2 separate regions of the Homo sapiens genome follow, and region 2 is reported to be linked to region 1. The links are microRNA targets in miRTarBase. Many come from high-throughput screens and were not tested one by one. Region 1 holds a microRNA gene; the other region holds the end of a gene's coding sequence.
What was found. Region 1 holds the annotated microRNA hsa-miR-3064-3p (UUGCCACACUGCAACACCUUACA, at 1,243-1,265, opposite strand). A microRNA usually pairs through its seed, bases 2 to 8, with sites in the 3' UTR of a target mRNA and lowers its output. Matches are read on the target gene's strand: a 7mer-m8 pairs with bases 2 to 8, a 7mer-A1 pairs with bases 2 to 7 and ends in A, and an 8mer does both.

Region 1 (4,069 bases):
AACCAAACAAAAACAAAAAAAAAACCAGACCATCTTAAGCAAAGTTTTACATGACATTATATAAAATAAAGTACAATTTCCACTTAATTCAGTCTTCAAATATTTTTTATTGGAAGGCCATGCATTGCCTTCATTTATTGTATTTCAAATCACTGTACATTTACTTTTGTGAAAACACTGCCTGCATTTTCTAGTACAAAAAAAACCTAAAAATTGTTTCAGGAATGTAGAGAAATATCCAACTTAAATAGCGAAAAAGTGCACCATAATTACTGCTGCACTGCAGTCATTTCTGCAATTCCCATGTTTCTTAAATAACTATCTTGTCAGATAACACACAATATAAAGAGCAATTATGAAAAACAGACATTTACATATACTTCTAAAGTCTTATTGGGAATATCCTGTTGGCATTGGATAACCAATCATAGGTGCAGCTGCAGTAGCAGGATATGCATATGCCTGTTGGTTCATACCATTGTGCATATTTGGAACATTACTTCCGTATTGCTGAGTGCTATCATAACCATTCTGGTAAGTCCCTGTTGGATTACCAGTCCTAAAACTGGTCTGTATACCAGCAGACACAAAATTACTTCCAAAGCTCCCATTGGTGTAATTTGCAGCACTGTAAACACCATTCTGAGTTTTTGCCCCAAAATCTCTTTTAAGCAGGCTAGAGTAACCTCTGTCATAATTTTCCCTGTCTCTAAAGGTATTAAATCCACCCCTTTTGCCCGCAGAGTATCTGTCCCGACGGTCATCCTTCATGCCTCCTCTACCCCTGGAACGACCTGTCAAGAAAACAATTGCAAATTGATCAATTATGTCTATGACACAAATCATTGTGGACAGAAAGAAACAGATCTATTCATGGTAGGCGTGAAATGTTTTTACAATTTTTCAGCTTAAGTTTTCACATTCAAGGTTTTACTCACCCTCCAATACCATTTAAATGGATTTGTAGACAACGATGTGACTCGTAACTACCAACATTTCCTATCAGTCATCCTTACCTGAACCTCTGTCTTCGACCAACTGAAGCAACTTGGGATTAATTGCTTGATTAGCTTCACGAAGCACAGAGATAAGGTCGCTCACTTGCTTTATGTTATTAGGTGTAAAGAAAGTGTATGCTGTGCCTGTTTTGGTACTGCGAGCAGTTCTTCCAATTCGATGAATATAATCCTCTGAGGAGTTAGGGTAGTCATAATTGATGACAAATTTCACATCTTCCACATCTGTAAGGTGTTGCAGTGTGGCAAAATAGCAATGTACGGAGTTTTGCACACCACAACAGCCAGACCAAAAATAAAAAGTTAGACAATTGTATTCCCAAGAAGGTACGGGCTGCAAAAAATACAGTTAAAATGGTTATCCATTTCCTGTAGGAATACCATTGAGGTTGAAAAAAGAAAAAAAAGCACATGTCATCTGTATAATTCATCACCCACCCAGTGACAGACCCTGTCAAAAGGAATGTGTGTTCCCTAAGCACATTCCCAAATCAGCAAGTTCCCTTACAGATCATCAAGTGACATCTGAATGCTTCTGCGCAGTAGGGCCACTTAAAGTTTCACAGCAACCTCTTCATGTGCTCATTTTGAGGACCTTGAAACAAAAAAATGTACAAGGTCCTTTGCATTACACATTCATCAGAAGTTCAAAATTCTGGCCACACTGCTTGTCTTGCCAAGACCTTACAACCGCAGCTGCAAGAAAACATACCTGTCCCCCAAAAGTTGTTTTTATGCACTGTGTCTCGTCTAGGCAAGCGCTTCCAAGAAGCCAGGATTCACTTGAGAATGTGTCTCTCTCTGGCAGGTCTCGACATGACGACTACTGTGTAGGTGAGGGAGGAACTTTCAAAGCACTTTCTTTTCCCACTTACTATGTGTGAGAAGTTGCTCCTGCTCTAGATCTCATGTGCCAGTACTCACCAATTTGTAAAAGGCTTAGTACCTTTTAAAGCTGCTCTCTCCATTTCAAACTTGAACAAAAATTTCATTGAACATTGAAGTTTGGAACTACTTCTTCGACATTTCAGCAAACTCACTGAAACTCAAAGACCCACAGATCACAGTGAACAGTTTGAAACAAGGCTGTACCATGGCAGTCATGCAAAGCATGGGACAGAAGAAATACCACGGCAGTGAACTGTGAGGATAACTTCCATTTTTTCCCTCGGAGAGAACAGTTTACGGGGCAGAGGTGATATGTTCTGCCTTTTGAAGATTACTGGCACACGTTCAGCTTTTTCACCTCTCTAATCGACTGGAAGCAGCCAGCCGATCACTAGTCCTCCATCCCCCTCGAGTCCTCCGATTGTCATGCCTAGGCCTTGCCACAAAGACAGCACCTTTATGTGAAAAAAAACTTAGAAAAAATGCAGGTTAAAGAAAGCAATAAACTTTCTTTAAAAAAGTTAAATGGAGATCTTCTGGGAAACCAAGCCATGAATGCGAGTTTGTACTAACCTAGCCCTCTGGAGGCCACATCTGTAGCAATCAGAATAGGAGCTTTTCCATGTTTGAATTCTACAAAGGAAGGCATATACATGATCAATTATCTGAGCAGAATTCTAGCTAGGTTAAGTAAGGGGGAAAAATACTTCATTTGAAATATTTACCATTTAGAACCCAGTCACGCTCTTGTTGACTCTTGTCACCATGGATACCCATGGCAGGCCACCTAAGTTAAAAGACAAGTTGTGTTATTAAACTCACATTGAAAACCTCAGACTCCAGTGCTTGACCACTTTTGGTCACAGATCTCTTTAATTTCGCCAGAAATGAAAAAGTTAAATTCACTATCAGATATGAAAAAAATCCACTGCTCGTGATCCAAGTTTGCCCTTTCCTAAGCTGTTTTAATCAATCTGCTTCAATGGAGGAGCTCACACATACCCATCTCTCCTCATTTTTCTGGTAAGCTCATCACATCTTCTTTTGGTTTCCACAAAAACAATGGTTTTATTCTCCTTCTCACTCATGATCTCTTCCATTAGACGAATAAGTCTAATAATAGGAGAGAGAAAGGAAAAATCCTGAGTTTTAAAAGACCATTGCTAGGGCCACACATTTATGGTCAGCAAAACATTAAGTTCAATTTACATGGCTGGAAGTCAAAGAGGAAACGCCTGCTAATCCACTTATCGAGCAGTTCGACCCTTGGTCCTTAAGTCAACCAGGGGACACATGAATTCCTTCTATAGGAAAGCTATAAATGGTGACAGCCATTATTTGAAGGATTCAAGAAATTTTCAGGATTAGTAGGCTAACTAAATGAAATCACACCAACTGAAATAACCTAAAACAACTCACCAAACAATGATCCCTCAATTTTACAGCAAAGTTGTTAGGAAGCAAATATAACAGAGTTAATAAAACTTACTTTTCATCCTTTTCTACGTCATGACACACATCCACAATCTGAAGAATGTTGTGGTTTGCACTCAGTTCAAGTGCACCAATGTTTATATGAATATAGTCTTTCAGGAAATCTTCAGCAAGCTGTCTTACTTCTTTTGGCCAAGTCGCACTCCACATTAGAGTTTGCCTATCAGGCTAATGGATTTTGGGGGGAAAAATTAGTATCAGACTCTTAAGAGTGAAAACACAATTCAGTTTGATCACATATTTCAAAGGACACTTACTCTTATTTGATCCACAATCTTCCTTATTTGGGGTTCAAAGCCCATATCAAGCATTCTATCTGCTTCATCAAGGACAAGGTAGGTTGTTCTTCTCAGATTGGTTTTTCCACACTCTAAAAAGTCAATCAGTCTTCCAGGTGTTGCAATACAGATTTCCACACCTTTAATTAAATACGTAAGTGTAACTACAATACCTAGGATATTTAGCACCAATGACAAATAAAACCCTTTTCATTACATACCTCTCTCCAAATCACGTATTTGTGGTCCCTTAGGAGCACCACCGTAGATACAAGTAGACTTCAAGCGACATGCTCTACAATATTCAGCAGCTACTTGCTGCACCTGTTGGGCCAGTTCCCGAGTTGGTGCCAGCACCAAACACTAAGGAAAGAGAAACAGCTTTCAGCACAA
Region 2 (4,069 bases), not on the chromosome of region 1:
AACCCTCTGTACTTGTGCTTTACCCTCAGCATATAATCCTTTTTCTGTCTGAAACACTCTCAATCCTACCTTTCCCTCCAATCTTCTTTAAATGAGTCAACAAGTCTTCCACACCTCCCATTGTCTTCAACCTAGCAAAGCCAGCTGTGTGCCAACAGTCCCCACAATCCCCTGACGCTGCTCTTGAGGGGCTCACTGTGAGAAGGGCCCTCAGCAATCCCATTCCCAGGCCTCTTTGCAGCATTGGGTTCTGCTGGCATGCTTCGAAACGCTCTTCATTGCTTTCTCGGCATTGCACTCTCCCTCCTGGCTTCCTCCAACCCACAGCTGCTCCCCTGCTGGCTCCCCCTCCTCCTCCTCCAGATTCTCTTCTCCTCATATGCTCCATAGATGATCCCATCGCACTGCAGCCTGACCTCCATCTCCACGTTCAAGTCTCTCAATTCTAACTCCAGACATTCTTTTTAAATTCCAAAGTCTAGTATCCAACTGCCTATATTCAGTCTAGTCACATCGAATCTTTCCAAAACTCATCATTTCTCCCATCCCCTGGCCTCTGTCTTAGCAAATGGTCCAGCCATCCACTCATTCCCCAAAGCCTGGTATCTGGGCACTGCTGGCAGCAGCAAGGATGCACCACTCTCCTGCCCCTCACCTTTCTAGCTGCTGTTTACCCTAAGATGTTCTTCCTTTCCTTAAAAACTGTATTTGACATATACAAACATTACCTACAAAATCACCATACCAGATTTTAGGTTATCATTCCACTTTGCCTTTATTTTTTATAATATATTTAAGTAGAACATATTTAATATGTAAAAAACTGTTATCTATTAGTTATAAAGTATAATGTATTAATAGCATATAGTAAACACTTGTAAGCCTACCAGGAGGAACCAGAACAGCTGCATAACTTGGCATCTACCTATGTGCTCCTGTCCCTTCCACTTCCTCCTTCTGTGGGTAATTACTATGCTCAATTTTGGTTTATCAGTTACCTTCTTTTTTTTTAATAGCATAGTTTTATTGTATACGTATGCTTAGACTACATATTCTTTGGTTTTGCTTGTTTTTGGGCTCAATAAAAATAGTACGCCCCATGTGGTCTCTTCAAACTTGCTTTTTTCCTTAATATTTTCTGAGATTCATTCTTATTGTGAGGTATAGCTGTAGTTCACTCATTTCCACTACTGAATAATATCCCGTAGAATGAATATATATATCTAATTATTCACCTATTTTCCTGTAGACAGACATACATTTCACTTTTTCCAGTTATTAACTATTATAAATATGTAACTATGAACATTCTTACACATTCCTCCTAGTGGCCACATGCAAGAGTTTGCTGGACATACAGGTGGGAGTTGGAAGCAAGATCATAACGTCTGCAAATGTTCAAGTCTGTAAGGGATAATTGTTTTTTAAAGCAGTGGTGCCTGTTTACACATCCACAATGTTGTACAAGTCCCTACAGATCTAACAACTGGTACTGTCAGACCCAACCTTTGCAAATCTTATGGATATAAAATGGAATCTCATTGTGGTCCTAATTCATATTTCCCTGACCAATGCTACAGAACATCTATTTATTTAAAAGCCCTATTTCCTCTTGTGTAGTCTTCACTATTTTTCTATTTTTTTAAATAGGAATTCTCTATATTTGTGATTATGAATCCTTCATCAGTTATTTGTATTATAAATGTCTTCTCAAGTTGTGGATCATCTTCTCACTTCAAGTGTTTGCTTAATATAAGCCTTGAGTTTTAACAGAATTGACTTAACCATCTTGTCCTTTATGATTACTACTTTATGTCTCAAGAGATTCTTTCCTGCCCTAAGGCTTTTTTCATCCAAACACTGACAATTTTTGCTTTTTGTATTAAAGCCCTTAACATATTTGGAACTTATCACCAGGTAAGGTGAGAGAAAGTAAAATTTCTTTTTTTCCCACATGAATAGCCATTGTTCTGGGATTACTTAGGGAGTGGTCCTTCCTGTCCCCACTGACTTGCCATGTCACCAGGTCATTTTGCAAAGGTCAACATATGCACGGGTGAGTTTCTAGGCCCTTATTTTGTTCCCCTGCTCAGAATGCCTACCTCTGCACCATGACACTGTCTTGACAATAAAACTTGGTATCACATAGGGTGCGTGTCCCCAACCTCTCCTTCATATTTAGAAGCATTTGGTAATTTTAAGTCCTTTGCTACTCCATATAAACACCTGCTTGTTTCATTCAATAAAATCTGTTGGAATTTCCATTGAAAATGGTATTAAATCCATAGATCAATTTTAGGAGACCTGATACCTTTATAATCTTGAATATTCCTATTCATGAACAAAGATGGTTCTTCATTTGTTCCTCCCTTGCTTCTTCGTCTTCATCCTTCGAATCAAACCAGGACTCCAATGTTACCTTCTCCTGACTATTGCCACCACCATCTTGAAGTAGGATGAGTGTATATTTTGCATGCAAATTTTTGAAATAACTGCAATCATCCAAGAAAAAGATGACATGGTTGAGTTTGAGGCTTGTTGCTTGAGTGGTGGCACCATTCTTCATTACTGAATATATTGAGAATTGAGGGGAATAAAATGGTAAGAAATGAGTGACTTTATGCTGCCCACTTGTCCAACTCCGCACGGGATATCAGAGCCCAGCTGAGAACCTGCTCAATCCTGGAAACAATTAAAAGATGTTAACCGGCCAGGCTCGGTGGCTCACGCCTGTAATCCCAGCATTTTGGGAGGCTGAGGTGGGCAGATCACGAGGTCGGGAGATCAAGACCATCCTGGCTAACACAGTGAAATCCTGTCTCTACTTTTTTGTATTTTGTAAAAACACAAAAAATTAGCCGGGTGTGGTGGCGGGCACCTGTAGTCCCAGCTACTCTGGAGGCTGAGGCAGGAGAATGGCATGAACCCAGGAGGCGGAGCTTGCTATGAGCCGAGATTGCGCCCCTGCACTCCAGCCTGGGCGACAGAGCCAGACTCTGTCTCAAAAAAAAAAAAACCAAAACAAAACAAAACAAAAAAAATGTTAACCACCCTTAACAGTAACTTTCTCTCCTCATTTCCTTTTTGTTTCCTCAGGGGTACGGAAATATGAAATTATGGGAGGACGAAAATGCCCAGAAAGCATGGCTGCTTGACCACACTGGGGCAAATGGCTTCAGTGTTTCTGACAAGCAAGCAGTGAGCGCATGCCTTTTGCCAAAGGGAGTTCTGCAGCCATTTAGTCCAGCCTTTAGAAAACGAGGTCTTCCGAAGAGAACAGAGCTACACCTTCCCCGTCAGAATCCACTGTTATAACCACTTAGATTAAAATGCCCCATTTCTCACAGTATCATTTTGTCACAGGGTCACACTTCTCTATTCAACTCAGTTTCAGGCTTTTCTTCTAAGAGGAAAAAAAGACGACTAAGTGGCCTCCTAGATTCCACTGTAAAAACAGAAAAAAGCAGGTTGACTTGCTTTGAAATCAAACGACCTCTGTCTTCAGTCTGTCCCCATCTCAGAGGGACCAGGGAAACCACAGGAACCCTGCTCACTGCTCTTCACGCAAGGTCCCAAAAAAACAGCGCCTGTTTTCCAGGCACTGCAGGAAGACCCTGCTCCTCTACAAGGTTCCACTAAATAGTCTTCGAAAACCAGAAGCAGGTAAGTGTCAGCCAGATGCACACAGGTTTTTTGTTGTTGTTATTTTTAAGGCACCCTAGGTTGTATTTCCTTGAGGATCATCAAGAATAAAAAAGGCAAAAAAAAAAAAAAAGTTAGTCTGTATCATATCCCAAAATGGGTCCAAGCCATTTCTCAACCTCAGCCACAGATATGTTCTTCCTCAATGCATAATCCTCAACCTGCAAAAGATGAGAAGCATTTTATTAAACCAACATGATAAGACTTTTGGAATAGAAGTTTCCACAAGATTTGCCAAGAAACATTAAGTACCTTGCATTTCTTGTCTTAATAGCAATCTACAGAGTTAAATGGAGATAGATATTTATCTACCAAGTTGCCTTTTTCTCTGGGCAGAAAAACATGTAGTAAACATCTGATGCTTAGA

Region 2: miRTarBase lists MTR as a target of hsa-miR-3064-3p. Seed matches in the 3' UTR shown: 7mer-A1 at 2,433-2,439.

The regions. Positions count from the first base shown.
Region 1 is chr17:64,499,533-64,503,601 of GRCh38, forward strand. It overlaps MIR3064 (microRNA 3064), which reads right to left and starts at 1,307; the gene lies at 1,242-1,307. It overlaps DDX5 (DEAD-box helicase 5), which reads right to left. Exons shown (of 13, transcript NM_004396.5): 6 at 3,898-4,039; 7 at 3,656-3,816; 8 at 3,394-3,566; 9 at 2,907-3,017; 10 at 2,630-2,691; 11 at 2,478-2,537; 12 at 1,017-1,241; 13 at 1-794. The coding sequence ends at 391. It overlaps MIR5047 (microRNA 5047), which reads right to left and starts at 1,781; the gene lies at 1,682-1,781.
Region 2 is chr1:236,897,352-236,901,420 of GRCh38, reverse strand. MTR (5-methyltetrahydrofolate-homocysteine methyltransferase) reads right to left here. Exons shown (of 33, transcript NM_000254.3): 33 at 1-3,863. The coding sequence ends at 3,777. Among named protein-coding and RNA genes, the nearest start is that of MTR, 100 kb to the right of the region's middle.